5 linked regions of the Homo sapiens genome follow. The protein of the gene in region 1 purifies or fractionates together with the protein of each later gene. This does not show direct contact. Each region holds a gene or a part of one and is shown on either strand. Other genes may lie near its edges. The genes, in order: PLCD4, C12orf43, ATAD3C, UTP25 and WDR70.

The links.
Region 2: the proteins of PLCD4 (region 1) and C12orf43 purify together in Homo sapiens (affinity purification with mass spectrometry; one large-scale study listed by BioGRID and IntAct). This does not show direct contact.
Region 3: the proteins of PLCD4 (region 1) and ATAD3C purify together in Homo sapiens (affinity purification with mass spectrometry; one large-scale study listed by BioGRID and IntAct). This does not show direct contact.
Region 4: the proteins of PLCD4 (region 1) and UTP25 purify together in Homo sapiens (affinity purification with mass spectrometry; one large-scale study listed by BioGRID and IntAct). This does not show direct contact.
Region 5: the proteins of PLCD4 (region 1) and WDR70 purify together in Homo sapiens (affinity purification with mass spectrometry; one large-scale study listed by BioGRID and IntAct). This does not show direct contact.

Annotation. Positions count from the first base shown.
Region 1 is NC_000002.12:218,624,042-218,630,217, forward strand, and holds part of PLCD4 (1-phosphatidylinositol 4,5-bisphosphate phosphodiesterase delta-4), read left to right. Parts: intron 1-3,987; coding exon 3,988-4,189; intron 4,190-5,477; coding exon 5,478-5,622; intron 5,623-6,176. UniProt on the Homo sapiens protein: Hydrolyzes the phosphatidylinositol 4,5-bisphosphate (PIP2) to generate 2 second messenger molecules diacylglycerol (DAG) and inositol 1,4,5-trisphosphate (IP3).
Region 2 is NC_000012.12:121,001,984-121,007,910, reverse strand, and holds part of C12orf43 (protein CUSTOS), read left to right. Parts: intron 1-1,516; coding exon 1,517-1,590; intron 1,591-2,817; coding exon 2,818-2,908; intron 2,909-3,418; coding exon of another isoform or gene 3,419-3,421; coding exon 3,422-3,758; 3' UTR 3,759-5,927. UniProt on the Homo sapiens protein: Plays a role in the regulation of Wnt signaling pathway during early development.
Region 3 is NC_000001.11:1,461,694-1,467,869, forward strand, and holds part of ATAD3C (ATPase family AAA domain-containing protein 3C), read left to right. Parts: intron 1-906; coding exon 907-1,015; intron 1,016-6,176.
Region 4 is NC_000001.11:209,850,319-209,856,041, forward strand, and holds part of UTP25 (U3 small nucleolar RNA-associated protein 25 homolog), read left to right. Parts: intron 1-885; coding exon 886-1,129; 3' UTR 1,130-5,723. UniProt on the Homo sapiens protein: Component of the ribosomal small subunit processome for the biogenesis of ribosomes, functions in pre-ribosomal RNA (pre-rRNA) processing. Essential for embryonic development in part through the regulation of p53 pathway.
Region 5 is NC_000005.10:37,720,991-37,727,166, forward strand, and holds part of WDR70 (WD repeat-containing protein 70), read left to right. Parts: intron 1-124; coding exon 125-225; intron 226-1,864; coding exon 1,865-1,944; intron 1,945-3,943; coding exon 3,944-4,060; intron 4,061-5,892; coding exon 5,893-6,055; intron 6,056-6,176.

The sequences.
Region 1 (6,176 bases):
GTATAAAAGAGGAAAACTGAGGTTTAGAAAGATTCAATGACTTGCTCAAAGTCAACAGCTAATGAGAGAGGAACTGAGATTCAAACCCAGGTCATCTGACTCTTAGTTGGTGCCTCTCTTGAGAATGAGGATAAGAGATGGGATGAATGAGAGCTGGACAAGTGATCAAGGTATTCTGGGTCTAAACTCTTACTCCCTTTCATTCATTCATTTATTCACTACTTCAATGAATGCTTATTGAGTTCCTATAATGTGTCAGGACCTATGCTAGGCACCAGACATACATTAGTGCCTAGATCAGACAAGGACACTGCCCTCATGAAACTTAGAGTCAAACAGAAAACATTACAATCTGTTATTTCAGATTTGTTTGGGTGTTCAGAATAGAGTAGAGGTTGTAGGCTGAGTGCAGTGGCTCACGCCTGTAATCCCAGCACTTTGGGAGACCGGGCAGATAACCTGAGGCCAGGAGTTCGAGACCAACCTGGCCAACATGGTAAAACTCTGTCTCTACTAAAAATATAAAAATTAGCCAGGCATGGTGGTGCACGCTTGTAATTCCAGCTACTTAAGGAGGCTGAGGCATAAGAATCGCTTGAACTCGGGAGGTGGAGGCTGTAGTAAGCCGAGATCACACCACTGCACTCCAGCCTGGGTGACATGGTGAGACTCTGTCTCAAAAAAAAAAAAAAAGAAAAGAAAAGAAAAAAAAGAATGGAGGTTGTAAAGCAATCATTTCAGAAAATGAAATCGAAGAGAGTTAAAAGTTTAAGAGATAGAATCTCTAGGCCGGGCGCTGTGGCTCATGCTTGGAATCCCAGCACTTTGGGAGGCCGAGGCAGGAGGATCACCTGAGGTCAGGAGTTTGAGAACAGCCTGGCCTACGTGGTGAAACCCCATCTCCACTAAAAACACAAAAAATTAGCCGGGTATGGTGGCAGGAGCCTGTAATCCCAGTTACTCGGGAGGCTGAGACAGGAGAATTGCTTGAACCTGGGAGGCAGAGGTTGCAGCAGTGAGCTGAGATTGCACCACTGCACTCCAGCCTGGGCGACAGACCAAGACTCTGTTTCAAAAAAAAAAAAAAAAAAGAAAGAAAGAAAGAAAAAAGAAATAGGATCTTTTGTTACCTGTGCAGAATCCAGTAAACATCAGTCCAAGACTCTGTTTCAAAAAAAAAAAGCAAGAAAGAAAAGAGAAATAGGATCTTTTGTTACCTGTGCAGGATCCAGTAAACATCAGTCCAAGACTCTGTTTCAAACAAAAAAAAAAGAAAGAAAAAAGAAATAGGATCTTTTGTTACCTGTGCAGAATCCAGTAAACATCAGTTACATTTGTTTCGACCCCGACCCCTCTTGGTGTTTCCTTCCCTTGAACTTGACAATCAGATACTTTATCTGGCTACAGAGAGTAGTATCAGTCAAAAAACCTGGGCTCAGGTCTCCACTGTGTTTCTTATTAACTGATAACTGTGAGCAAGTCACTTAACCTAACTAACTCAGTTTCCTCATTTGTAAAATAATTGATAAAATGAAATAATGCACATGAAAAGTATCTGGCAACTGCAAATTTACCTGAGTGATTTATTACTGTCAAGAATGAAACTTTCTGGCCGGGCACAATGGCTCATGCCTGTAATCCCAGCACTTTGGGAGGCCAAGGCAGGCGGATCACTTAAGTTCAGGAGTTCGAGACCAGCCTGGCCAACATGGTGAAACCCCTTCTCTACTAAAAATATAAAAATTAGCTGGGTATGGTGGCGGGCACCTGTAATTTGAGCTACTTGGGTGCCTGAGGCAGGAGAATCGATTGAACCCGGGAGGCGGAGGTTGCAGTGAGTGGAAATCGAACCACAGCACTCCAATCTGGGTGACAGAGCGAGACTCCATCTCAAAAACAAACCAACCAACCAACAAACAAACAAAAAGAATGAAACTTCCACCAGGTATGGTAGCTCATGCCTATAATATGGGAGGGTGAGGCAGGAGGACTGCTTGAGTTCAGGAGTTCAAGACCAGCCTGGGCAACACAGTGAGACCCCATCTCTAAAAATAAAAAAATAAAAAAAATAACCAGGCTTGGTGGCACATTCCTGTAGTCCCAGCTACTTGAGAGGCTGAGGTGAGAGGATTGCTTGAGCCTGGAGGGCAAGGCTGCAGTGAGTTGTGATTGTGCCACTGTATCCAGCCTGGGTGACAGAGTGAGACTCTGTCTCCCAAAAAAAAAAAAAAAAGGAAACTTCCTGCCCAACTTCCTGTCCTTCTTCACAATCTCCAGGCCTTGTGAAACCTGGAGCAAGGAAGCTGGCCATGAGAGTCATGTTGTTCCACCTTCCAGGCGAGCCTCCTTGTAGCAACATTATTCTCAGTGAGACTGCACAGCCCAGTGGTGCAGGGCATGGCTCTGACACCTGGCGGCCTGGGTTCAAATCCCAGCTTCTACAGTTACTGATTATGAGACCTGGAGCAAGTTACCTAACCTCTCATGGCAGATTATATTACATCTACTTCATCACGTTACTGAGAACATGAGTGAGATGCTGCGTGGAATGCCCTGGGCATAGAGTGAGTGCTTGATAACTGTTAGTCATTGTTGTTGTTGTTGTATAAAGCCCATACTGAGATTGGAGGGAGCTATGGAAGGACTAACAGGGCCCTTTTCTCAATGGGAGTGTAGTCTAAGGAGATGTTGACAAATGATCCTCAAAACATCATATGGGAACATGGACAGTAAGAAGAAACCCTCAGGCCATAGTTAGTCACAGGTACACAGCCCAAGGAAGAAAATACAGGTAACTTGGCCATGTCACTAAGCCTTTGACTTTGATTCTCTCTGGGCCTCAGTTTCCTCATCTATAAAATTAGCCCTTTGGATGTTGTCCATTATAGTAACTGTGAGCTCCATTTGGCTATTTAAAATTAAATTAACTAGGTCGGGCACGGTGGCTCACGCCTGTAATCCCTGCACTTTGGGAGGCCAAGGCAGGCGGATCACGAGGTCAGGAGATGGAGACCATCCTGGCTAACACGGTGAAACCCTGTCTCTACTAAAAATACAAAGAAAAAAAAAAAGAGCCGGGTGTAGTGGGGGGCGCCTGTAGTCCCAGCTACTCGGGAGCCTGAGGCAGGAGAATGGCGTGAAACCAGGAGGCGGAGCTTGCAGTGAGCAGAGATCCTGCCACTGCACTCCAGCCTGGGAGACGGAGTGAGACTCTGTCTCAAAAATAAATAAATAAATAAATTAAATTAAATTAACTAAAATCTAATAAAATTTAAAACTTAGTTCTTCAGTTACACAAGCCACATTTCAAGTGCTCAGTAGCCACATGTGGCTAGAGGCTACTATATATGACACTGCAGAATAAAACGTTTTTCTCTTTAGTACTATAGCATAAAAAAAGACCAAAAAAAAGTTAAAAAAAAAAAGACATTTATCTCATCATAGGAAGTTCTATTGGATAGCACTGGACTCAAATGAACTTTTTTTTTTGAGACGGAGTCTCACTCTGTCCCCCAGGCTGGAGTGCAGTGGCGCGATCTGGGCTCACTGCAAGCTCTGCCTCCCGGGTTCACGCCATTCTCCTGCCTCAGCCTCCCGAGTAGCTGGGACTACAGGCGCCCACCACCGTGCCCGGCTAATTTTTTGTATTTTTAGTAGAGATGGGGTTTCACCGTGTTAGACAGGGTGGTCTCGATCTCCTGACCTCGTGATCTGCCCGTCTCAGCCTCCCAAAGTACTGGGATTACAGGCGTGAGGCACCGCGCCCAGCCTTGAATGATCTTAATGATTCCTTTTAACATTCTTTGAGGGTGGGAATGATTGAAATGATACACACTAGGTGGGGCAAGTTTGGGATCTAAAGGCTGGGAATGGGTGCCATCTGAAAGGCAGGGCTCTGGATGGAGTGGGAGGAAGGATGGACTGTAGGTGTGCTGGGATGCTCCCATTCAGAGCTTCTCACCTAGTGTTCCCCTGTCCACACTCCAGGCAAACTGCGGCATGTGCTGAGTATGGATGGCTTCCTCAGCTACCTCTGCTCTAAGGATGGAGACATCTTCAACCCAGCCTGCCTCCCCATCTATCAGGATATGACTCAACCCCTGAACCACTACTTCATCTGCTCTTCTCATAACACCTACCTAGTGGGGGACCAGCTTTGTGGCCAGAGCAGCGTCGAGGGATATATACGGTGCAGTGGTGGTAGAGAAGGGGTCCAACTCATGAGAGGGACCATGTAGAAAAGTGAGGGGAGCTGTCAGTGTCTAACAGATTGGGACAGTGTTGTGGGGGTTTAGGGGCTGAGGAGCCCTGGATACCAGAGACACTTGGAGGAGATATTGAAGACTGGTGGGAGAATGGTAATGAAACCCTATGGGTCAATGGAACTTCTCTTTCACAAGCTATGAAACTCTCCTGGAACTCAGAGGCCCTGACAGATTTATATTTAACAAATTAATAAACAGATTGTTAAATGGAAGGCAATAGAGAATAGGAGTTAAAAATATAGGTTCTGGAGTCAGACCATCTGAAATTATATCCTAGCTCCTTCACTTGGTACTCTGGGGCTAAGTATTTAACTTCTATACCTCAGTCTCCCCATCTGTGAAACAGGGATGGTAACAGTGCCTATTCTGTCTGGGTTGTTGTGAAGAGATAATTCATATGTCAATAGCTAATAAGCAGTTCTGATTTTATTGTGACTAATCATGGATTAGATTGAATAGTCAAGATATCTTTCTATTACCAGCAACTGAACTAGTAGCTTCAAGGGATACAAAGATGAGTGGAACATATAGTTTCCACCTTAGGAAGTCTAGCTGAGGAATTAAGGTGTAAATTTACTGACAGTTTGAATAACCAGGATGTTGTATAGGGATATAAAGCCAGAACACCACTGGACACAATGGCTTATGCCTGTAATTCCAGCACTTTGGGAGGCCGAGGCAGGGAGATCGCTTGAGCCCAAGAGTTCGAGACCAGGCTGGGCAACATAGTGAGAGCCCGTCTCCACAAAAAATGCAAAAATTAGCCAGGCATGGTGATGTGTGCTTTTAGTACCAGCTACTCGGGAGGCTGAGGTGGGAGGATCGCTTAAGCCTGAGAGGTCAAGGCTGCAGTGAGCCATGTTCACACCACTGCACTCTAGCCTGGGTGACAGATTTAGACCCTGTCTCAAAAAAATAAAAGTAAATATAAATAAATAAGTAAAACCAGAACACCAGATGCATCATGAGGCAATGTGTGATGGATTGCTATGGAAGGACTGTGAGTCGGGTGGGCTGAAGTATGGGTAGAGATCAGCGTGAGCTTGCAGCAGTGTCCCCATGGATGGAGAAGGCTCTATGCAGATGTAGCTTGAAGGGGTCTGGATGGGTAAGTGCTGGTGAGCACTGTTCTCTCCAGAGTGGGGAGAGTCCCTAGGTAGAAGATCAGATATTGACCTCTCCTATTTCTCGGTGGGGATGGGGTTCTTTCAGGGCCCTGAAGCGGGGGTGCCGCTGCGTGGAGGTGGATGTATGGGATGGACCTAGCGGGGAACCTGTCGTTTACCACGGACACACCCTGACCTCCCGCATCCTGTTCAAAGATGTCGTGGCCACAGTAGCACAGTATGCCTTCCAGGTAGTAGCCCCAGGATGGGGACACTGGTGAGGCCAGAAGGTCTGAGGGAAGAACGACTGGCTCTGGGTCTGGGGAGGGTGGAGGAGTACAGGGGAAGTTCCATCAAAAGAGGATTTAACTGTAAAGCATCAGGCAAATACTAAAGGCTGATTATGAATAAGTGTTGGACATGTTACTAATAATTAGTAGTTATGGAGGTAATTACTTATGGTTAGAAACTATTACTTCTTCAGGCCAGGTGTGGTGGCTCATGCCTGTAATCCCAGCACTCTGGGAGGCCGAGGCGGGTGGATCACCTGAGGTTGGGAGTTTGAGACTAACCTGACCAACATGGAGAAACCCCGTCTCTATTAAAAATAGAAAATTAGCTGGGCGTGGTAGTGCATGCCTGTAATCCCAGCTACTTGGGTGGCTGAAGCAGGACAATCCTTTGAACCCAGGAGGCAGAGGTTTGCAGTGAGCCGAGATCGCACCAGTGCACTCCAGCCTGGGCAGCAAGAGTGAAACTCCATCTCAAAAAACAAAACAAAACAAAAAACTATTACTTCTAACAA
Region 2 (5,927 bases), on another chromosome or scaffold:
CCACCATTGAACCACTGTGTGGGGTCAAGAACAGGTGCCTGGGTGGCATCATCTCTACTCCCTCTCCCCGGGTTGCTTTTCCTGAACAGGGCTTGGGGGGCACCTTTGGCATACAGGAAGGGAGGTTAGGGAAAGCACCCAGGGCATTGCTGCGTCTGCCTCGAGGGCATTGCTGAGAGCCTTGTTCTCTGCTGTGCACAGTGGCATCTCCATCTGCACTCACCAGACACATGCTTCCTGGCCTTGTGCCTCTAGAGAAATGTGGTTTATTTTTATGTTAGAGAGCCTGTGAAGGCTGAAGCTTTTCTTGATGACAGTCATCATCTGCATCGTCATCATAGCTACCATTTGCTGAGCAGCTACTTGTGGCTAGGCCGTGTGCCACAAGTGCTTGATATCCATTTTCCCCTTCAATCCTTGTGACAACCTTAAGAGGTAGGGACCTTCATCGTTCCCACTGCACAGGTGGATAACAGAGACTCAGAGAGATAAAGTCATTTGCTTAAGGGACATAGCTAATAAGTGACAAAACCGGGATTCAAAACCCAGGTCTCTGAAGTCTGAATGAGGTCCATGAATTGGATCAATTTGCATTTCCTAGTTGTGATGTTGTACTATAGCGAGGCACAATGTTACCATTGCGAGAAAATGGATGGAGGGTCTATGGAACATCTGCATTATTTGTTGCTACTGCATGTCTACAATTATCTCCAATTTCTTTTAATTAAAAAAAAAAATTTAAAAACAGGTCTGCCCTGCTCCAGAAGCTGTCCTCTGAACCAGTTTTCTAGATTGGTCATATTTCCCTTTTCATGCTTGCTGCTAGGAAGCTCAGAGCAAAATGTATGCCCTCTCTCTAACAAGTGTATAGGACTTCCTGACTACACTTCTAGGTCTTTCTGTTCCTCTTGCCCTTATATCTCTTTGTCCTATTTGAAATTGCATTCATTTTGTTAAATTCTTTTCTTTTTTTGGAGATGGAGTCTTGCTCTGTCACCCAGGCTGGAGTGCAGTGGCGCAGTCTCAGTTCACTGCAAGCTCCGCCTCCCAGGTTCACGCCATTCTCCTGCCTCAGCCTCCCGAGTAGCTGGGACTACAGGCGCCCGCCACCATGCCCGGCTAATTTTTTGTATTTTTAGTAGAGATGGGGTTTCACCGTGTTAGCCAGAATGGTCTCGATCTCCTGGCCTCATGATCTGCCTGCCTTGGCCTCCCAAAGTGCTAGGATTACAGGCGTGAGCCACCATGCCTGGCCTCATCTTGTTTTACTATGTCTTTAAAACTTCTTCAACACTTACTGGAATAAAGTGGGCTTTAAAGAAATGAAGCACTGCAGTTCGCGTGGCAGAGGCTGGTCAGCATGTTATAACCAGACCATCAGCCCTCTTACTAGGCCAGCACGCTTTCGCTTTTGCATTTACAATCACATACCCCATCCCCTCCACTTGAAAAAGAATTTTGTTTTTGTCGTTATCCAAAAATCTCATCTTAAATCAACCGTCTCGTCTCCCTGTAGCTTCATTACCATCTCAGAAGCAGCAAAGGAGCCAGCAAAAGCTAAGGTACAGAAAGTCGCTTTGGAGGATGATGGTGAGTGGTTATACTTAATAGAAGCTATCATTTATTAAGCACCTAATGTGTGTCTGGAGGTGGGCGAAACAGTTTTGGTATATTCTTTTTTTTTTTTCTTTTTTTGAGATAGGAACTCTCTCTGCCACCTAGGCTGGAGTGCAGTGGAGCAATTATAGCTCAATGCAGCCTCAACCTCCCGGACCCAAGCAGTCCTCCCACCTCAGCTTCCTGAGTAGCTGGGACCACAGACACACACCACCACCCCTGGCTAATTATTTATGTTTTTTAGAGACAGGATCTCGCTATGTTGCCCAGGCTGGTCTTGAACTCCTGGCCTCAAGCCATCTGCCCACCTTAGCCTTCCAAAGTTCTGGGACTACAGGCGTGCACCACCACACCTGGCTAATTTTTGTATTTTTTTTTAGAGACAGGGTTCTGTCATGTTGCCCAGGCTGGTCTTAAACTCCTGGCCTCAAGCTATCCTCCCGCCTCAGACTACCAAAGTACTGGGGTTACAGGCATGGGCCACCTCACCATTCTTTCATCTGCTCAGCCCCTGTGGTGAGGCAGGTATTATGATTGAACCCCATGTACAGACAAGGAGACTGAGGCCCTGAGAAACGAAGTCATTTGCCTGAGGCGGCCTCGTCTGTGTCACCCTGAGCAGGAGCACTTTACTGCTGCCCTCCACAGCCTCGCCCATCTGCGTCTGTCCTGTACCAACACATTTGCCACTTTGAAGGCTGCCTTAGGTCAGGAGCTCAAGTGCTGACTTCCAGAAGCCTCTGAGGGCTTGCTGAGCTGATGTGGCTGCTGGCTCCTGCTCCAGCGCGCCCTCCACTGGCTCCATCAGGCATCAGCATGACCCTTGGCAGATGCAGAATCACTTTGTAGTTAGACGACTGATTCCTGGGTCTTTGCCTCTGGACCAGGAGCTCCTGAGGGCAGAGGCGGGGCAGCTTCAGCACCTGGCACCTGGGAGGAGGGGCTGGCATCTGGGGGTGCTGACTCTGCTCCTTTGTTTTTTTTGTTTGTTTGCTTGGTTGGGTTTTTTTGTTATTGTTTCTTTTTTAAATTTTTTTATTTTGTGTCTTCTTAAAATTTTTTTTTTGTTTCTCTTTATCTTTTCTTTCTTTCGTTTTCCTTTTTAAAATTTTTTTCTTTTTTGTTTCTTTATTTTTTATTTTTTTATGTTTCTTTTTGTTTTGTTTTGTTTTTGTTTGACTCTGCCCCATTGAATCTTAGGTTTCCGCCTTTTCTTCACATCTGTCCCTGGAGGCCGTGAGAAGGAAGAGTCTCCCCAACCCCGCCGAAAGCGACAGCCCTCCAGCTCCAGGTGAGAACTCACACCTCTCCTCACGTCCCCTCCTTTTTTCTCCTCTTCTGTCTTGGTGGGTTCCCTGGAATAGCCAAGCAGACTCCAGTCAGGACCAGGCCAAGGCAGTGGCCCTGTCAGGCAGCTGGAGAAATCATGAGCTCAGCGGGAGGGAAAGCCCTCTTGGCGGCAGCTTTGGATGTTTACTGCTTTTGAGCACCTGTCTTGGGCCAGACACCTCACTTGATCATAGTTGCCTCCTGGGACATCCCTGGGAGGCCTGGACTCTGTTAAGATCCCCGTTTTAGAGATGATACAGTCAGAGAGGTTAAGTCACTTAAGGAGGTCACAAGGCTGCTACGCCCAGAAGCCAGTATTGGAAGCCAGGTTGGCCTCACTCCCAAGCCTGAACTCACTACCTGCCTCTCTCTGCGGCCACCTTCTGGTGACCTGGACCAAGGGAGGACAGCGAGAGGCAGCTCTGGGGCTGTGTCCTGACTCCAGCTAACCCAGGGTACCCTCTCGTTGCAGCAGTGAGGACAGTGACGAGGAGTGGCGGCGGTGCCGGGAGGCAGCTGTGTCGGCGTCCGACATCCTACAGGAGTCAGCCATCCACAGCCCTGGAACAGTGGAGAAGGAGGCAAAGAAGAAAAGGAAGTTGAAAAAGAAAGCCAAGAAGGTGGCCAGTGTCGACTCGGCTGTCGCTGCCACCACCCCCACCAGCATGGCCACAGTCCAGAAGCAGAAGTCAGGTGAGCTCAACGGGGACCAGGTGTCGCTTGGGACCAAAAAGAAGAAAAAGGCAAAGAAGGCCAGCGAGACCTCTCCATTCCCACCAGCAAAGAGTGCTACAGCTATACCTGCAAACTGAACCCAGCCATGGGCACAGGGCTCAGCCAGCTCCAAGGACAAGGTGTCCCCCCCACCCTGGGGACAAGGCATTTCCAAGCCCCACCTCCCTCTCCAAGTTCAAGGACTGGGCTGGCAAACCCAGACTGCCCATGAGACCCTGATGGTGATGAAGGCTTGCTCGAGAGTTGGGCCAAAAAAGTGGCTGTAGGGTGAGAAGACCAATCAAGGCCTGCCCCTCTGTGCTCCCACGGAGGGCTGGCGGGGGCGCTGTGGTTCCAGAACATTTCATGACCTCAGGAAAAAAGGAACCTTCCAGTTATTTGAGACTAGTGGCCAAGTGGTGAAACCTCCATCTCCCTAGAACTGTCTGAGGTGGGCAGGGGAAGGGAGACCTTCCCCACCACCTCCTTAGCCTGGTGTGAGAAACAGTTTTTAGAAAATGAGAGAAGGGATCCCCAAGAGGCCAAGGCCCAGAGAAACTTTTGTTCTTCTCTCCTTAGCCCACATAGACTTCACAGAATCGTCTGAGAAAGGAGAGCTTTTTCACCCCTGGCTTTCTAGAATTTTCTTTGTCTGCATTTGTGAATATACCACACATGATGGTGTCTCTGAGCCGACCAGATTATGGAAACTCAATTGTCAGAGGACCCAAAACAAAACTTAGAGTGATTTGGATATTGCCTCTCTGTCAATGCTGAACCTTAAGACATTTTAAGTAAACATCCTCCTCCTCTCTACACCCCCAGGATTTGTGCGTTCACCCCACCCAAGACTTCAGGAAGTGTCATAGCACTCGTGGACTAGGTTTCATGGGACAAAGGCATTCTGCAAGAAGTAGAAGCTTGTGGCCGGGTGCAGTGGCTCATGCCTGTAATCCAAGCATTTTGAGAGGCCAAGGAGGTGGATCAATTGAGGCCAGGAGTTTGAGACCAGCCTGGCCAACATGGCGAGACCCCATCTCTACTAAAAATACAAAAATTAGCTGAGCATGTTGACACACGCCCGTAATCCCAGCTACTCAGGAGGCTGAGGTGGGAGAATCGCTTGAACCCAGGAGGTGCAGGTTGCAGTGAGCCGAGATTGCGCCACTGCACTCTAGCCTAAGCAATGGAGCAAGACCCTATCTCAAAAAAAAAAAAAGAAAAAGAAAAAGAAAAGAAGTAGAAGCTCATGGCCAGGGATGGTGGCTCACACCTGTAATCCCAGCACTTTGGGAGGCCGAGGCAGGTGGATCACTTGAGCCGAGTTCCAGACCAGCCTAGGCAACATGGTGAAACCTCGTCTCTATAAAAAAAAGAATACAAAAATTAGTTGGGCATGGTAGTGAGCGCCTGTGAGGCTGCTTGTGAGGCTGAGGTGGGAGGATCCCTTTAGTCCAGGAGTTCAAGGCTGCAGTGAGCTGTATAATGCCACTGCAGTCCAGCCTGGGTGACAGTGAGACCCTGTCTCCAAAACAAAATTTTTTTAAAAAGTAGAAGCTTGAGGTTAAGATGAAATCTGGCTTTGTCATTAGAGTCTCAGCAGAGCAAGAAAAGCAGAGATGTGGGGTGTGAGAGCGTGGGTGCTGGAGCCTGTCTCCTCTTCGCAGGCCTCTGGCCTGCCCCAGCCTCCCGCTACCTGCCCAAACCCCATCTGAATGATTTGTGGACAAGCAAGAAGTTTCCACCGCATTTCTCCTTGACTTTACTAAAAGTTAAATAAACGTGCCACTCGCCCCGGCTGGCTACAAGCTGCAGGGGGTGCCGGGTCACCCCAGGCCTTTTCCTGAATCCCAGGGTAGACGCGGTACACTGAAGGCCAGGTTCTCAGCAGCAGGCCCAGGGATGTGGGACCATGCTTGTCCTGGGTTCACAGGCTCCTTTGTCCCTCCTGGCAGTGCTCAGGACCTCAGACTCCTCAGGGTGGCTGCGAACTGCCCTCAGCCAGCCAGGCCCCCAGGCTTCTGAGTGTTAGTCCTGTCCACACAGGTAGCTCCTGTGCCCTGGGGTCACCTCTTTCTTCTCCTGGGCACCTCAGCTTGGCCAGTTCCCCGGCCCTGCTCAGCTGCTCGGGCCTTGCTGCCTTGTGAGCTCAGCTACTCCTGCCCCAAACAAGGGCAGGGTCTGCAGGGCGCTCGAGACAGAGGAGCTGCCCCACCAGGACCTGGACTTGGCACGGGTTGCGAGGCTCCCACAGGAGTAAGGACGAC
Region 3 (6,176 bases), on another chromosome or scaffold:
GAGAGGCTCCTCATGAGACCCCCATGTAGGGATTGGAGGGAGAGGCTCCTCATGAGACCCCCATGTCGGGACTAGAGGGAGAGGCTCCTCATGGTCCACTGCTGGCTTCTGGCCTGGCCTCCCTGCAGCTGCCACACCCGGCCCTGGAGCCTCGTGGTGTGGGGCGCGGCTCTTGCTTCCTGCTGCACATGTGCCTTGAGGCTGTCAGGCTCCCTGTTGCTGGCGGTGGGTGCAGCAGGCACGGTGGGCAGAGCCCTCCAGGTGATGAGGGGCCCTGGCGCCTCACACTGGCTGCCTCGGGAACACTCCAGATGAGCAGAGGCTGCTCTACTTCTTGGCGTCCCCAGGGCCCCGGTTTCTGAGTCCTTCTGTGCACCTGACCCAAATCCCTGCTGTCGCCAGTGACGACAAAAGCTGCTCTGTTCCAAAGAGAGCCTGGTTCTCCCCTGCCGACCCCTCCACTGCCGCCTGCTCCATGCTAGACCAGCTTTCCGGGTCTCAGTTTCCCTATGCCCTCCCCTTCCCTGGGCTCCCCGACACCCATGGCTGCTCGTAGCTCTGGCACCATGACCTGGCTTCTGTGGCCTCCAGGCAGAAGCTTTTTTGCTAGAACTCAGGGCTCTGCCACTGCCAGTTTAACGGCCATGCGCCCTGTGGGTGCTGAGTGGACAGGGCTGGTGTTAGGAAGGGGTGCGGCCATCTCCAGGCCCCACAGCCGCCCCCTTCCTGCTCAGCCCAGGCCTGGCTTGCGTCAGGAAGGGGGCGGAACTTGGCTGTCACAGGTAGAGAGTCCCTCTCAAGGGGGCATCTGGCATGGGTGTCCGCCTGGCTGCCTGTCTTCCGGCCTCCACCTCGTGGTGTGGGAGCTGCTGCCTTGGCCGGCCCACTTGGGAACTCCTTCCCCAGGCGTCTGAAGCTGGCCCAGTTTGACTACGGGAGGAAGTGCTTAGAGATCGCTCGGCTGACAGAGGGCATGTCATGCCGGAAGATCGCACAGCTGGCCGTGTCCTGGCAGGTGAGTCAGGCTCGGGTGCACCCACCCAGATGGAAGCCCAGCTGCTGTGCAGATGCTTGGTTGCGCCAGGCCTGTCCCAGCACCGGTGTCACGTGGGAGCTTCTGTTGAGGGGTTTTCAGTGCACAGATGTGACACGGGGCCCCTGCCCCAGTTGGGCCACTCCACGCAGCAGCGTGCACCTGCTCCAGCAAGAAGGGTGGGGCCATGTCAGTGGCTGACGGTCACAGGTCAGGAAGCCAGTGCGGCCTCCTAGTAGCCCGGGCTCTGCCAGGTGGGGCGGGAGGCTTCTGATGCTCACCTTGGCAGACAGGCACCCCCCAGTGTGAATGGTCATCAGGACAGGCCCCTTGTGAGTTTGGTGGTGGGGGTGGAGGGACGTTGTGTTTCTTGGACCAAGTCCATTGGCTTGGTCCTGCTTGACGGGCCCAGACACATGGGTGGGAGTTGTGGCCTCTGATTGTCCCACAGCCAGTTGTTTCTCAGGGGCACCCCTCCTGCAGCTCCATGGCTGCCCCAGGGCCAAGGAGCTGGGACTCACAGGAGTGTGGGCACGGCCATCCAGAAAGCTTTGGTCTTTGGGGGTTGCTGGAAAAGCAAAACCAGGTCTGTGGGGCAGAAGGCACCCTGGCCATGCACAGGCATCGCTGCCTCTGGGGTCCACAGAGTCTGTGTGACAATCTGGTCACTCGATCTAGCAGCACATTATGTGTGACAGCTTAATGAAGTAGCCAACTACCTTGATTTGAACGTAGGAGCCGGGGTATGTAGGGAGCTGTATTAGTCAGTACAGGCTGGGTTATGCCGCTGTGACAAAGAACCCCAGATCTCAAACCCCGTCCTTCTGGGTCAGCTGAGGTCTCTGTTCCAGGCCATCCCCACTTGGGACCAGGTCTGTTTCCACAACTAAGAAAGCAGAGGCCGGGCATGGTGGTGGCTGATGCTTGTATTCCCAGCATTTGGGGAGGTCAAGTCAGCCAGATTATTTGAAACCAGGAGTTCAGGACCAGCCTGGAAAGCAAGTCAAGAACCCATCTCTACAAAAAATAAAAAAAATTAGCTAGACCTAGTGGTGCATACCTGTGATGCCAGCTGCTTGGGAGGCTGAGGTGGGAGGATCACTTGAGTCCAGGAGGCGGAGGCTGCAGTGAGCTGTGATTGTGCCACTGCACTCCAGCCTGGGTTACAGAGTGAGACCCTGTCTTAAAAAATAAGAATAATTTGGTCATGGCTTATGCCTGTAATCCCAGCATGCTGGGAGGCCAAGGAGAGAGAATCACTTGAGGCCAGGAGTTCGAGACCAGCCTGGCCAACATGTCGAACTCCACCTCTACTAAAAATACAAAAATTGGTCGGGCATGGTGGTGGTGCATGCCTGTATTCTCAGCTACTCGGGAGGCTGAGGCAGGAGAATCGCTTGAACCCAGGAGGTGGAGGTTGTGGTGAGCCGAGATCGTGCCACTGTACTTCAGCCTGAGCAACAGAGTGAGACTGTCTCAAAAAAAAAAAAAAAAAGAACAGGAGTGTGGTCGACTGCTGGGCCTGCCATAACCACTGGGGCGTGTGTGCCCACAGCTCTGAAGGCTACAGGCCCAAGGTCAGGGTGCCAGCTCGGTCCCTCCCTGTGGAGTGTTCTTTGCTGGGTCCTCATGTGGCAGAGAGAGCAACTCAGCTCTCTCTGGTGTCCCTTATAAGGACACTCATCCTGCACTGCTCACAGCGGTGGTGGTGAGCCAACACGCCCAGCACCAACTTTGTCCTTCAAGAGTTTTTTTCTTTTTGTGCCGGGCACGGTGGCTCACGCCTGTAATCCCAGCACTTTGGGAAGCTGAGGTGGGTGGATTGCCTGAGGTCAGGAGTTCAAGACCAGCCTGGCCAACATGGTGAAACCCCGTCTCTACTAAAAATACGAAACTTAGCTGGGCGTGGTGGTGTGTGACTGTAATCCCAGCTACTCAGGAGGCTGAGGCATGAGAATCACTTGAACCCTGGAGGCGGAGGTTCCAGTGAGCTGAGATGGTGCCATTGAACTCCAGTCTGGGCTATTCAGGATCCCTTGAGATTCCATATGAATTTTAGGAATGGTTTTCCTATTTTTGTAAAACATAATTGAGGTTTTCACAGGGATTGCATTTAGTCTCTATGTTGCTTTGATGTCTCTCAGCAATATTGTGTGGTTTTCTCTTTTTGTCTTTTTGAGACTGAGTCTCGCTCTGTCGCCCAGGCTGGAGTGCAGTGTTGCGATCTTAACTCACTGCAACCTCCGCCTCCCGGGTTAAAGTGATTCTCCTGACTCAGCCTCCTGAGTAGCTGGGATTACAGGCACGCGCCAACATGCCCGGCTAATTTTTGTATTTTTAGTAGAGACGGGGTTTCACCATGTTGGCCAGGCTGGTCTCGGTCTCCTGACATGAGGTGATCTGCCCGCCTCAGCCTCCCAAAGTGCTGGGATTCATTCAGGTGTGGGCCACGGAGCCCGGTCAGTTTTCACTGTGCAAGTCTTTCACCTTCTCGGTCAAGTGAATTTCAAAGTATTTTATTCTTTCGGATGCTATTGTAAATGGAAATGGTTTCATAATTTCCCTTTCAGATTATTCATTGTGGGCCAGGCGCGGTGGCTCATGCCTTTAATCCCAGCACTTTGGGAGGCTGAGGTGGGTGGATCACAAGGTCAGGAGATTGAGACCATCCTGGCTAACATGGTGAAACCCCATCTCTGCTAAAAATACAAAAAATTAGCCGGGCGTGGCGGCAGGTGCCTGTAGTCCCAGCTACTCGGGAGGCTGAGGCAGGAGAATGGGGTGAATCCTGGAGGCGGAGCTTGCAGTGAGCCGAGATCGTGCCACTGCACTCCAGCCTGGGCGACAGAGCAAGACTGTCTTTAAAAAAAAAAAAAAAAAAAAAAAAAGATTATTCATTGTTAGTATGTAGAATTGCAGCTGTTTTTGCTGTTGATTTTGTATCCTGTAACTTTGCTGATGTCACAGGGTTGTTTTTTCCAATATGGATTCTAGGATTTTCTACATATAAGATTATATCATCTGAGAACAGGTGATTTTACCTCTCCCTTTTCAGTTTGGATGACTTTTCTTTTTCTTGTCTAATGGCCCTGGCCACAACTTCCAGTGGTATGTGGAATAGAAGCAGTAAAGCATTCTTGCCTGGTTCCTTACTCAGAGGAAAAGCTGCCAGTTTTTCACCACTGAGTATGTCACCTGTGGGCTTGTGATATATGGTCTTCATTGTGTTTAGGGCGTGTCCTTCAATTCTTGGTTTGGTGAGTGTTTTTATCATAAAAGTGTGAGGTGGGTGGATCACCTGAGGTCGGCAGTTCGAGGCCAGCCTGACCAACATGGAGAAACCCCGACTCTACTAAAAATACAAAATTAGTTGGGCGTGGTGGTGCATACCCATAATCCCAGCTACTTGGGAAGCTGAGGCAGGAGAATCGCATGAATGCGGCAAGCAGAGGTTGCGGTGAGCCGAGATCCTGCCATTGCACCCCAGCCTGGGCAAGAAGAGCAAACTTCTGTCTCAAAAAAAAAAAAAAAAAAAAAATGGCTGGGCGCGGTGGCTCACGCCTGTAATCCCAGCATATTGGGAGGCTGAGGCGGGTGGGTCATGAGGTCAGGAGACTGAGACCATCCTGGCCTGGCTAACATGGTGAAACCCTGTCTCTACTAAAAAATATAAAAAATTAGCTGGGTGTGGTGGCGGGTGCCTGTAGTCCCAGCTACTCAGGTGGCTGAGGCAAGAGAATGGCGTGAACCCGGGAGGTGGAGGTTGCAGTGAGCCGAGATGCCTGGGTGACAGAAGGAGATGTCATCTCAAAAAAAAAAAAAAAAAAAAAATTGTATTTGGCCAAATGTTTTTCCTGCAACAGTTGAGAGGGTCATGTGGTTTCCTTCCTCCACTCTGCTAATATTGACTGATTTTTGTATGTTGAACATTTTGTATGTGGAACATTGATTGATTTTCATATGTTGAACTGTCCTTGCATTCCAGGAATAAATCCTGCTTGGTCAGGGTGTGGAATCCTTTTATTATACTCCTGAATTCGTTTTGCTGGCATTTTCTTGACGACTTTTCCAACGATGCTCATCAGGGATATTGGCATGTCATTTTTCTTGTGGTGTCTTTGGCTTTGATATGAGGGTAATGCTGGCCTCTTAGGATGAGTGAGGAAATGTTCTTCAATTTGTCCAAGAGTTTGAGGAGTGGTACTGATTCTTCTTAATGTTTTGTGAATTCACATGTGAAGACATCAGGTCCAGGTCTTGTCTTTCAACTTTTATAGTTTGAAGATTTTAGGTTCCCAGAAAAGTTGCAAGAGTAGCACAGAGACTTCCTGGGCCTGGGACCTTGCCACGTGGTGAACATCATGTGTCACTGTTGGACCCACCCGCGACCAGGTTTTGCCCCAGAATCCCACCCAGGAGGCCACGTGACATTTAGCTGTCACTTCTGGTGGGCTCCTGCCAGGTCCCGTGCTTCCTGGAGGGGTGGCTCCGTGAGCATCTGCTCACCCCCTTTCCTCTGCTGGGCCCTGGGTGAGGTGCAGCCACTCGGGTGGACCCTGAGGGTCCCTGCACCTGTTTGCCCTCTCTTGGGTGGGCTCAAGACCAAAAATGATGTTGAGCAGTCCTGGGCCCCTGAGCCACAGTGGCGGTCCGGCTCCGGTCAGTGTCTCCTGCGCTCCCGGGCCCCCGACCCACAGTGGTGGTCCGGCTCCGGTCAGTGTCTCCCCACACAGTGGCTCTTGGTGAGGGATGGGCGCTGGCAGAGGGGACGGGCACCACGTGGTCATCCCCATGGCAGGTTCTATCGTGGTGACGGTGTTGTGGGAGGATGGTGTGCTGCTGCCCCTGCACCCCGTGAGATGAATCCTGCCTCTGGGAGGCATAGCTGGGATGGGGCTAGGGACCCGCTCAGCTGTCCGGGAAGGGTCCCCTGCCCTGTGCTTCCTCCAGGCGTCCTGGTGCGCTCTTGAGCATGGCGCCCAGTGGGGGTCCCCACACCCTCACCCTGACCCATGGGTGCCTCCCCTTGGGGACTCCATGCCCTTTGCTGGCATTGGGATGGAGAGTGACCTGTCCATGGCAGAAGGGCTGGACCTGAGGCTGCCTGAAGCCACACCAAGGGCCACAGCCCCAGCAGCTCCAG
Region 4 (5,723 bases), on another chromosome or scaffold:
AATAGATCACAGTCATGGTTTGGGAAAGGAAGGTCTCCAGAGAGATCAGGATGAGCTGTGAGGGAAAAAGACAAGGAAAACTTACCTTCTGTGAAAGAAATAAAATCCCCAAGGGAGTCTAACGTCTTCAGTGTATGAGAGAAACTTAACAGGAAAAATCAGAAGCTTGTCAACATATAAAATCTTTTGTTATGGAATCCCACAGGGGAACGGTTGACGTCAGCCTGACTGAACCATACTGCAAGTCAGTCCCTTGGGTGTACACCACCCCCCACCACAGGGCGGCACTGTGCAGCTGGGAAAGAGATGGAAATGCATACGCTGTTGAAACTAATTGCTTTCTCATGATGCCTAGTGGGTCCTTGGGCAGGGTTTTGTAAATGGATGAACTTGGGACGTCTGCCATGGAGTTAACATGTATCCAGAGTGGCAAGAAAAGACTAATGGGAGTGTATTTACAATCTGTACAACTTATTTTATGTACTGGGTCTGACCTTGTCTCCATTCTTTTTTGCCTGATTATAATAAGGCTAATGTTCCATTTTAAGTGCCTGCTTTTTAAGTTTTCTGTGACAGATTTTTAAATCCTGGTCTACTATTCTTTCCCATGATACCTCAGCCTACCCAGTGTAGGATCAAGAAATGTGTATTTATTTTATCATTTTCTTAAGCCAAATATTAGGAATTCGAATATGTTGTCATAAAAAGAATTCAAATATGTTGCCACCTCAAGTTAGAATAACTTTTGTTCTGTTACTTGTGCCACTGTTTTTCTCCATTAGCAGGAAGCAACAAGCATGAACTATGCCTCTGTACAACTCCTAGGTAGTTTTTCTAGAACTTGTTTCTCAAGTTGACATAGCTCTTTCTTTCCAATTCTGACAGGTATACAATAAAAGGCATCAGGAACCTGATTTTCTATGAACTGCCGACATATCCACACTTTTACAGTGAAATCTGTAATATGCTGAGAGCCACCAACAGAGGAGAAGAGGCCACGTGGACCTGCACTGTTCTCTACTCCAAATATGATGCCCAGAGGTTAGCTGCCGTGGTTGGTGTGGAGCGGGCGGCACAGATGCTACAGTCCAACAAGAATGTCCACCTCTTCATTACTGGAGAAAAATGAAATTTTGTTGGGCAGGAAGTGGTATTTGGCATGATACATAATGTTTGATTCTATGCCATTTGGACCCAATTCTGATTACTTACAGAAGAAGGACTGATACAAAGAAAGTGCATGAGGCAATGTCAGTATTATCTGACATCTTTCTTTTCAGGTCATGTGTCCCTGAAAAGTTAAATGTAAACCAGATTTTGGTAAATCCCATCTTTCAGAAGTGAAGAGGGGGCTAGAAGGACTCTGAGAAGTTGGTAGAAGAAAACTCCCACTTGTGAATATTTTTGTGAGACATAAATTCTTTTATTACGATTTACCTCTAATTTATTACACTTAGTAAATTCTTCCAGATTTTTCTATTTGTTTGACACTTCCTTAAAGTAAGGAATACACATTGCTTGCGAGAACTGGTTATGAGACATTGGAATACTTCTTGCTGCTACATGTCATCTTAATTTTGGATGGCATGGGTTTTGTAAAACTTATTCTGCCCCAGCCAAACTTTTTTGAAACCTTAAATAGTCTACCTTAATTCAGCCTAGAAGAGTACATTGATTTACTGATCTTTTTTCATATTCATAATACTAAATGTTTTAGTTTTGTTCAAATATATGCTTAAAATCACGTTATTTAAAAAACACATCAGCTCTGTCTCAAGAAGTAATTTTGTTGAAACTCCATGTTAAAATATCCATCTTCAACAGTAGTGTCTTCATAATAACTAGTCATTTTTTCAGTCATAAACAGATGCAAATAAAAAGGAAATTACACTTTTAAAAACATTTTTATTTTGAAACATTCTCAAACAGAAAAATTCCAAGTACAGAACCTGAACCATTTGAGAGTGAGTTGCCAACCCAGTGGGCCTATCACCTTTAAATACTTTAGTATATATTTCCTGTAAACAATTAAGGGTATTGTTTGTGATTAGGAATGCCCCACCAATAAGGATAATGTGAATATTTCAGAATCCAAAAAAATTCGAAACACGTCTGGTCCCAAGCATTTCAGATAAGAGATATTCAACTCATCCTAGTATGGACTCGTAGTTTCTTCTTTTATTCAATGGGTTACGGTTTGTTACATCATTATTTCTTTAGATGCGTAACTGGTCTCAAATATGGCCGCTGGGAGCACCTTCAGGTTAGCCCCTGTGTACTTTTGACATGTCCCCCATCTACTTGGGCACTGCTGTATTTTTTGACAATGAGACATTCCAGGTTTCTCTACTCCAGCCCTGCTTGCTTTTAGTAGGAAATTATTATAAAAGGTTAGATTGGAGTGCTTACTATTGTGGTGCCACTCATCCCAGGCTCAGTGGTCAGAACTTGGGAATTGTGTACATGTATGCACACACATATGTACACACGTTGTCTAAATTTGCTTCACATTAATATCTAAATTTACTTTCATATCCATATATTGAAAACCATGAATTCACACCAGTACCTCCAATTCTAGTCCAACAACACAGGATTGCTTCTCATTTTCTTTCCATATTGATAACTCCTTTCTCAGACAGTGGCTCCCATTATCCTCAATGTAATAACCCATGATTGGTACAGATTTTTTTTATCCTTGGGCACGCTTAAAATTACTTAGCAAAAACAAAAAGTAAAATCAGTTTTGAAGTAATATTTCTGCTAAATATTTAGACATTTTTACTTCTTTTTCTTCAGCATGGTAAGTAAAACCATTTATTCCATATTTAGATGGTTTTCTAAATTTCAGAAAATTTAGTTAGATAAAAGCCGACCGAACCCATGCTACAAAGAACTTTTTGTATCTATAGGCATGCCCTGTGGTTACTGGCGTAATTGTGCTGCTGTTTATCATAGATCCTGTATATTATGAGAATAAGAAATGAGTTTATTTACCTCATTCAGAAATGTGAGGCGAAGGGACTGTAATTACCTGGATCTTTTTTTTTTTTTTTGAGATGGAGTCTCGCTCTGTTGCCCAGGCTGGAGTACACTGGCATGATCTTGGCTTACTGCAATCTGTGCCTCCCGAGTTCAAGCGATTCTCGTGCCTCCGCCTCCCAAGTAGCTGGGACTACAGGCGCATGCCACCATGCACAGCTAATTTTTTATATTTTTAGTAGAGATGGGGTTTTGCCATGTTGGCCAGGCTGGTCTCAAACTCTTGACCTCAAGTGATCTGCCCACCTCAGCCTCCCAAAGTGCTGGGGTTACAGGCCTGAGCCGCCACGCCTGGCCAATTACCTACATCTTTTTCTACTGCCATATTCTTTTGCCTGTGAATTGTAGTTCATCTCGTGGTTTCCATTATTACTATTCACACGACTCCCAAATCTCCAGCTTCTCTGGCTCTCCACTCACATGTGAGTCTGGATTTCAAATCCATGATGTAGCCCCAGAAATAACCATTTTATTAAGCACCCCTAGTGATTTTCATGCTGGCATAGAGCCAAACCCAGCCAACTGCTTCTTGCCTGCAGAGAACACTGAGGATTTCAAGTGTGAACAAAGTAGTGTTGCTTTGTTCCTGGCTCAGCACCTGAAAAGAAGGTAAGCCTCTGCAGTTAGCCCTGGCTCCTTAGTGCATTGCAGAGTGGAGTCTCTGCAATGGTTTTATTAAAAGGATGCCTTGAAGATCTGGTCTCTCTCAACACACAATAAGCGAGAAGAGAGGCTACTGAAATACGGATGCGTGAGCTGGAATTACACACTACCTTGATGTTAACAAGGCTCATTTGCAGCAAGCAAGTGCCTATATAGGGTCTGAAATATAGACAAAGGATGGTCCCAATCCTGGAAACAGTGGAATTAAAAGGTATGGAAAGGAACTTACCCAGAAAGTAACACTTTTAAATGTTTTTTCTTTTCCCATAGTTAAAACAACCAGCTTAGCACTTTTCTTTTTGAGAGAGAAAAAGCTTTGAATCGTGGATGCTTCTCACAGCTGGCTGCACCACGTGCAGTGTTCAAAAAACAAGAACAAGCTAATCATAGAGAACCAGCAGCAGCTAAACAGCCCTCTGCTTGCTTCCAAAGGGCTTATAATTGAGCACAGATGGTCCTAGTGGAGATGGGGAATGTGTCCCTGCTGACTCCTCATACCCCAGAGGACCAAGGGGGGCTCATGAAGGCTCTCAGCCCTGATTGTGCCCTCGTGAGGGCAAGGAGCTATGCTGCTGAAGGAGGAAAGGGAAAGGCAGGTGGGGCCAGACCCTATTGGCCATCTGACCAGCCTTCCCAAGCCCACGTGAGCAGATCTAGGGTCTCAAGATTACAGAAGGCCTGGGGTGAGGGAGCAAGAGTTGGAAGTTCTTTATAGTTGTCTGAAGAGCCTCATTGTCCAACTGCAGGGGCCTGAGGTGCCCAAAGCTTCGTGGAAAAGTAATGTCAGTGGAATGCTCAGAAGTGGCTCTTTTCAGGGCACGGCTTCTGAGGAGCGTGGGGCCACCACAGCTAGCCCTCCCTCCGTCTAGCCATCCTCTCCTTCCAGTCCCTTTCCCATCTTTTCTCTCAAAGGAGCATGGTAGTGATCTTCATTACCAAATTTCTACTCCACACTTATTTTAAAAAGCTTTTCTGAAAGCCTGGCTACATAGAATTCTAAACAGATTTCAGTCAACTTTTAATTAGAGTCAATGAATGGGGAGTAAATACACAGATAATCCAAAATTGATGTAAGCATTGGAAGGGGAAAGAGGGAACGCTTCTTTCCCTCTGGGCTTGGTCATTTCCTCCCAAGCAAACCCCGCGACGTTCAGCCGTCTTCCTCCTATGCCACGTGCTCTCACCAGAACTGCAGCAAAACTGCATTTTATGTCCTGTGTCTAAAGCTAAACACATGTTCCTGTCTACTTTTGCTTTGTTCCTGTTTCCCTTCTGTGAGGACCTTCCCCTCCTCAGATGTGGGGAGTTGCCGCCTCCACTTGCATTACATGTATTTCAGAGTAGGTCCTAGGCTCCCCTTACACCTCTGGTCACGTTGCCATTATTCCTATGGTAGATAAAGGGGATGAGAAAGAACAGAGCTCCAGGCCTTTTTCAAACAAACTGGTTTTCTCAGTATAGCCCTATGCTCAAAAGGAGTGAGGACAGGTATGTGACTGCCATAAGGAGCTGTTTGCTTTGCACAGAGAAATCTAATCTTTCTCCTGCTGGGCAGCTCAGTACAGATGTCCCCTCACTGCTGGAAGAAACACCTGCCCTTGCTTGTTCTCCTGATGGCCCCTCACAGTCAGGTGTGGGATGGCACATTTCTAGGTGCTCCTCGCCGAGCTGTCATGGGCTTCAGTCTTGGGCCTCTGCAGCTGGCTGTGACCAGGTGGAAACTGTAGCCTTGGCTGACCCAGAGAAGGAAAGGAGGCAGTCTGCCGCTTGGCTGATTTAGGAGTTGTGCTGAATTCCTGCCCATCTGTTCTCCCAGCTGAGCCAAGGCCAAAGCTGTCTACCTTTTGCCAACCTAAGGAATGACACAGAGCATGGAGCACCATCACTGAAACATCTGCCCCAGTGCCCTGCCACCTTCGTCCTCACTGACCTCTGCAGCCTCTCTCATCTGCCAGTTTTGATTCCGCAAGGAGAGGTGGCCCTGGGCTCACAGCTGGTGTTTGTCCACAGATGTTCAT
Region 5 (6,176 bases), on another chromosome or scaffold:
TGAAAGTTAGAGGTAAACCATCAGGATGATATTTGATATAGTAGACTAGCCATCAAAGTACCAGCAGGATTGTTTCCATTTTTATCTGGCCTCTTTAGTCAACCACTGCGCTTTTCCTTTGCAGAGTGTTGTTCGCTGCCTGTGGCATCCAAAGCTGAACCAGATCATGGTTGGAACTGGAAATGGATTGGCTAAAGTCTATTACGACCCCAACAAGAGTCAGAGGTATTTCATAAGTATTGCCTGTTTTAGATGGATGACAACAACTGGGGGGAGGGATTTCCCTCCCACCCCCGCTTTTATTTATTTCCCACTTTGATGGAGATCCACCCATTTAGAAAATGCAGCTGGAACAAAGTAAAGCCTCAAACTCCTGGTATTGTGCTTTAAAAAGGATTTGAATATTGCCCTTGATCCACACTGAATTCAAAGCGAAAGTTTCCTGGGAATTTGCAGTTGTTTAGCTGAAATGTTGAGTGCAAGGGGGAAAAACGTTCTGCCCACTTTGCATACCACCCTGGACAGAGGCATTAGCAGTGATACATGTAAGAGATTTAACAAAGCAGGGAACTAACCACTTACAGGAAATGGAATCAGCTTGTCCATTTTGCTTCTTTCTTTTTTGGCTTCTAGCAGTTTGGATGTTTGGCAAGATTATTCTCTGTCCGCAGAAAGGGACAGCACAGATACGTTTCCCCTCCACCCCCATGCCCACCCAAGTTTCAAACTTAAGCATACCACTGTATTTCAAAAGTCTGAAAACGTAACTAGAGGTTCAGTCATTTCCTCAGTTATTTCCGTTTTGCTTAGGCACAAAGATGGATATGTGTCATCACCCAGAAAAGATGGTTTTGTTTCTCTCTCTTAAAGTACAGTGACTGATAAGCTTTCTTTAGAGTAAGACTTGGTTAACTAGCATTAAAATTCACATGTGAAATTTACTGGGGTCCCATATAAACCTGTTTTAAGGTCCCACATCCTTTGAGGAAAGGAAAGCCAGCCTCTATTAATGAATATTCATTGGCCATAATTTTGCTCTGAATAGAAGCAGACAGCCCCATCTTCCTTCAGAGCTTCCTGGACTAGAGTTGGAATCCTGGCCTTATACAATAAAGTATATTTATGGTATTTGAAAACAAATAGGATTTTATTTGTTTTTTAAAAAAGAAATTAAAAATGCTAATGTACTTAGGATGGGAGTCTGTTTCACTTGAGAAAATGATGAGCCTCATTTGATAGCACCCATTTAGAAGGCACTTTCTGTGGAAGCTTTGCTTTAAGAAATTTACTTATTTGTATTTGCTTCTCTTGAAAAGGATAACTCTGTACTACTAAGGAGAAGTGCAATGTTCTAAGCACATTTTTGGTTAATCCCACACATTCTTGGGCCATAGCCCCTCGGCAACACTGCCAAGCCAACTCAGTTCCAGACACTTGTACTCTTGTATTTGAAAAGTGGACATATGCCATTTGGGGTGTAGACCACCCAGGTTGCTTTAGTCTGAGACATAAACTAAAATTTTAACCCTGTGACCTTTAGAGTGAAAAGGTTGGGTAATTTTATTATTTAAGATCTTAAAATTTCACATTATTCCTATAGGTTTTGTAAACTTGTGTCCTGTTGCCCTGTTACCTCTCCAACCCTCTTGCTTGTTAATAACCACTGACTGACAGACTTGCTTTTCCATAAGTTTAAGCTTTTATCACTGAGAGCCCATCTGTTGCCATCCCTCAGAAAGTCAAGTACTTGTGTAGATGGAGTGCATGCACAGAGTATGTTCCTGAAAGTATCTCATGTTTTCAACATGAAATTTTCTGTTTCTAAGACCAAGTAAAGAAAATAATTTGCTTTTACACCCGTTAGGGGAGCAAAATTATGTGTGGTTAAAACCCAGCGGAAGGCAAAACAAGCTGAGACTCTAACTCAGGACTACATCATCACCCGTAAGTCGTTAACATGCCTCTCAATCATGCATCTCTCTTCTACTCTCATGTGGTTTTGATTGCATAGCTTTAGAGACAGAGAAAGCCCTCAGAATTCAGGCATATATTACAAAATTGCCCATTCATGTGGATAGGACTACGAGTCATGTAACAGCTAACCTCTGTGGCTTCTGTGACTCATCACAGGGACAGGGTTATTTCATGCAGCTTTCAACCCAAAAGGGAAAAGCCTGTTCGAGTCCAATACATTACTTTATAGCAGTTTTTTCAAGAGTAACAGTCTATTCCAAGTGTGAACAAGAAAGAGTGCTGGTCTTGGAATCAGGAGGCCTGGGTTTGTCCAGTTCCACCACTGAGTGGCAATGTGATGTTGAACAACTTAACTTTTAATCAGGGAAGTGTGGCGACCAGAGGAAGGGTCTCTTCCAGCTTTCTCTGAAATTCTATGACCATGTGCTAGACTGATCCACAGGAATTTGTATATAAAATTAACTACCTGGGGTATGAGTAGAAAGCTTACTAGGGCAGAGTGGTTTCTCTCACGTATGTCACACAACCTCATTAATCTGGCAGATGTGTGTTCCCAGAGCCACAATCTCAAACCTGCAACAGGTGACAGCTAGGAAAGAAATAATGGATGCTACAGCGATTATCATTAGTGGATGGCCCTGTGGACTTTATCAGTGACTCAGTCTGGAGCCCAGGGGGCGCTGTACTGCTGGGTTTTCTCACTGGTGGTGGGTCTCATATGAGACCAAGTCCCTTGGAGCTTATGACCAGTAAAGAGATCCCATGACACTTTTTGCAAGAGTAGAAGTGTTAAAGTCAGTGTCATAACTAGTCTAGCTCATGTAATTACATGCGGCCTACTTAAATTCCTCCAGTCGTTTGAAGTGAAAAGCTATTTTCCCCCTCCTAAAAATACTGTTGTGTTGTGTTGCCCAACTGAGTGACGGGTGGCTATGTTTCTCAGCTCCCCTGACTCAAGGCAGGCATGTTTTACTGGTGAGTGATATGGTCTGGCCTCAGTTGGCAGTATAGGTAGAAGGTAGGAGGGGATACTGGAAGAGGTTTTGAGGTGTTATAGACATTTTATTGATATTATAAATTCCCTTTAACCTTTCCCTTCCTTCCCCTGGTCCCCCGGGAAAAGTTTCTTTTAAAGGGGGTTTAATCTGCACGTAAGAGTCAAAAGAAACTGCTAGTACTTTTCTGGGGCAAAAAAAGGGAGTTATTTAATACTTCCCCTAATAACTCTTTCCTTTTCCCCTAGAATATTATACTGTTTTCCTTTTTAAATTCTTATAATCTTTTATATTCTGAAATTTAATTTTGACATTGAGTAAACAGTAACAGCAATTGAACGCATATTACTTTGGTTTTTATTTTCTTATTTTGCTACCATATAGCAGGAGGGATAAGGCCCCATTAAGTCCCCATGCCAAGAGATTTAGGCACCTCTTGCATTCATGGCAACCTTTATCCCAGTTTCAGTGGGATAAGTGTTCCTCCCTTCCGGTTACTCAGTGTTGTCAACTCCTCCTGAGAGGTGGTCACATTTCAGAAACGTGTGAAGTGATTCCAGTGTTTATGAGACATCTGAGGAAACTTCAGGGCTGACAGCAAGCTGTTGGCATTATTCACATTTGGGTCCTGTAAGAAAAAATAAGAGGCAGTCCCAATATGTGTTTCTTTTCAAAACCACGGTAATTAAGTTTTAACTGCTACCCATGGTTTGGGAGATGGGGAGCCTCACCGATGTTTCCATGACAATATTTGACAGTATTTCCTGAGTGCTGTTAGCTGCCAGGAGAGGTGACCAGTGAGTCTGGTCTCAAGCAAAATTGGCTAATTGGTTACAGTAAGACTGTCTTTTATTATCAGATCAAGACTGTCATTATGACTTCCATTTCATCTTTCAGTTAGTCATGCTTTAACTATGTTTTTGGATGGGAAGGTTATTGTTATAATGAAATTTTTCAAATGTGACTTCTTGTAGCTCATGCCTTGCCTATGTTCCGTGAGCCCCGCCAACGGAGTACAAGGAAACAGCTGGAGAAGGACAGACTGGATCCCCTGAAGTCGCATAAACCTGAACCTCCTGTAGCAGGCCCAGGTGACTGTGATCCAGCTAGTGACCTGCAGAGGGGGTTCAGAGGCAGGGTGGGGTAATTGATATAAAATTGGGAAGGTCTTTTGGGCCTGGATGCTTCTTTGTCTTCAGAGAGATTTTACTAGTGTTTTAAAAATGTTTTCTTTTTAGTAACAGAAAAGCTGATGCAGAATCCAGATGTATAAAGCTGATAAAAATTGAGCTTCTATACTGAAATAGGGAGGAAGACTGGGGCCCTTTCTGCTTGGTCTCCAACTAGAGTTTTCCTAGCTGGCCTCAGGGGAACTCGGGGGCTCAGTGGACCTTGGAACCCAGTGTTAAAACCACTGCTCTCAATATTGGCTTAATGTACAACACTGGGCACTTTGACCAGAATCCAGGCTGGATTAGGTTTCACACAAGGCAGAATGTGGCCATCATTTAGATTTGTGTTGATATCACTAGAAGATGAATAAAAGTCTTTAGAGTTTTTGAGAAGTAGGTACCAGAAGAAAGCCAAGCAGCACTGGCTAATAGTATAGCACGTACCTTGACTAGAATTTCATTTTCTGTTATCATCTGTGTAGTTTCTATTTGGTCTGCTCCTTCAGCATAGAAAACATTTTGCATATCTATCTTAATTATTTTTTTCATTTTTTTCTAACACCGTCCTAACTAAAGTTTCCAAAAAAGATTTTTTCTTGGATTATTGTGAACCCTTCTAACTATGCACCTTAGTCTCAAGTCACTCCCTTTCTCCCACCTCACTTCTATTTGTCTTATACACAGCTTTAATCCCTAACTCCATTAGCTTTTCATGTTGCTACAGCCTCCAAACCTTCATAAGCTTCCCACTGTCCAATTGTCTTTCCAGAGATTCAAGGTTCTGTACAGTCCAAATCAAATCTACCCCTGTAGCTTTACACCTTACTTCTTTCCTGCTCTGATCTTTTGAGATTACTGTTGGTTCAATCCTGTCCCCAAATACCCATTGAACTTTCTTCTTTCTGCATTTTTGTACTTAACCCATTCTGCTTATTGAAAATAACCTTCTTTACCTCCTAAGCTTTCACAAATTGGATCCATCTCTTTCATAAAGACCTGTTCAACCACCTGAGCCTGAAGTGCTATCTTCCTCTAAGTGCCATAATAGTTACTGGCCATACAAATTATCTCACAGTTAATTATTTCCTGCCTTATTTAGTTTCTTCTTATCTTGATTTATGAAATTAATCTTTTAGTGTTATTTGGCTTTTCATATGTTTATTTTATCTTCCTAAGAAGTCCTACATCTTTCTGAGTACCAGTCACTATACTAGCTGCTAGAGATCTAGTGGGGAACAAATCCCTGCCCTTAAAGAGGTTCCTATTTCATAGGGAGATTATAGTACAGCAGAGCAACATGAATCAGTATGTTTAGCTTATTTGTTTTCTCTTATAATACTCAGCAAAGTACCTGTAAGGGACTTGGAAGATGCCAAGCCCTAAGATATGTTTATTTAAATAGCATCTAATGAATATTGTTTATTTTTATTAATTGAATTCTAAATGTTGATGCCAGAGGAACTTTTTAAAGCATATAGATGGCAAACTATCTGTAATTTTTTCTATATTGGTATCATTCTGTAAGTTAAGCAACTGAGACATAACAAAAAAATCTCTTCCTATTTAAAAGTGCTATCGGGAAGTTGAGGTTTGGTGATCTCTTTGGTTCTGATTGTCATAAATCTAAGCTGAAAGGATGAAATTTAAGTACTCTTGAGATTTGTGCTCAGATAAGTACAGTGTACACAGATATACCTATGTATCCTCATGCTCATTCAGTTTCTAATTTGGTTTTTTTTCTTTTGCAATAGGTCGTGGTGGCCGAGTTGGAACCCACGGGGGCACTCTCTCTTCCTATATTGTGAAGAACATTGCTTTGGACAAGACCGATGACAGTAATCCTCGGGAAGCCATTTTGCGTCATGCCAAAGCAGCAGAAGACAGCCCATATTGGGTTTCTCCAGCATATTCCAAGTGAGAATATAGCTTTTTAAAACAGGAAAATTGTTATGTTTAATGAATTGGGGAGAACATAACAATGTTGTTTTTGAGTTCTAACTTCTCTATTTCTTATTTCATACTTAGATATGAAAAA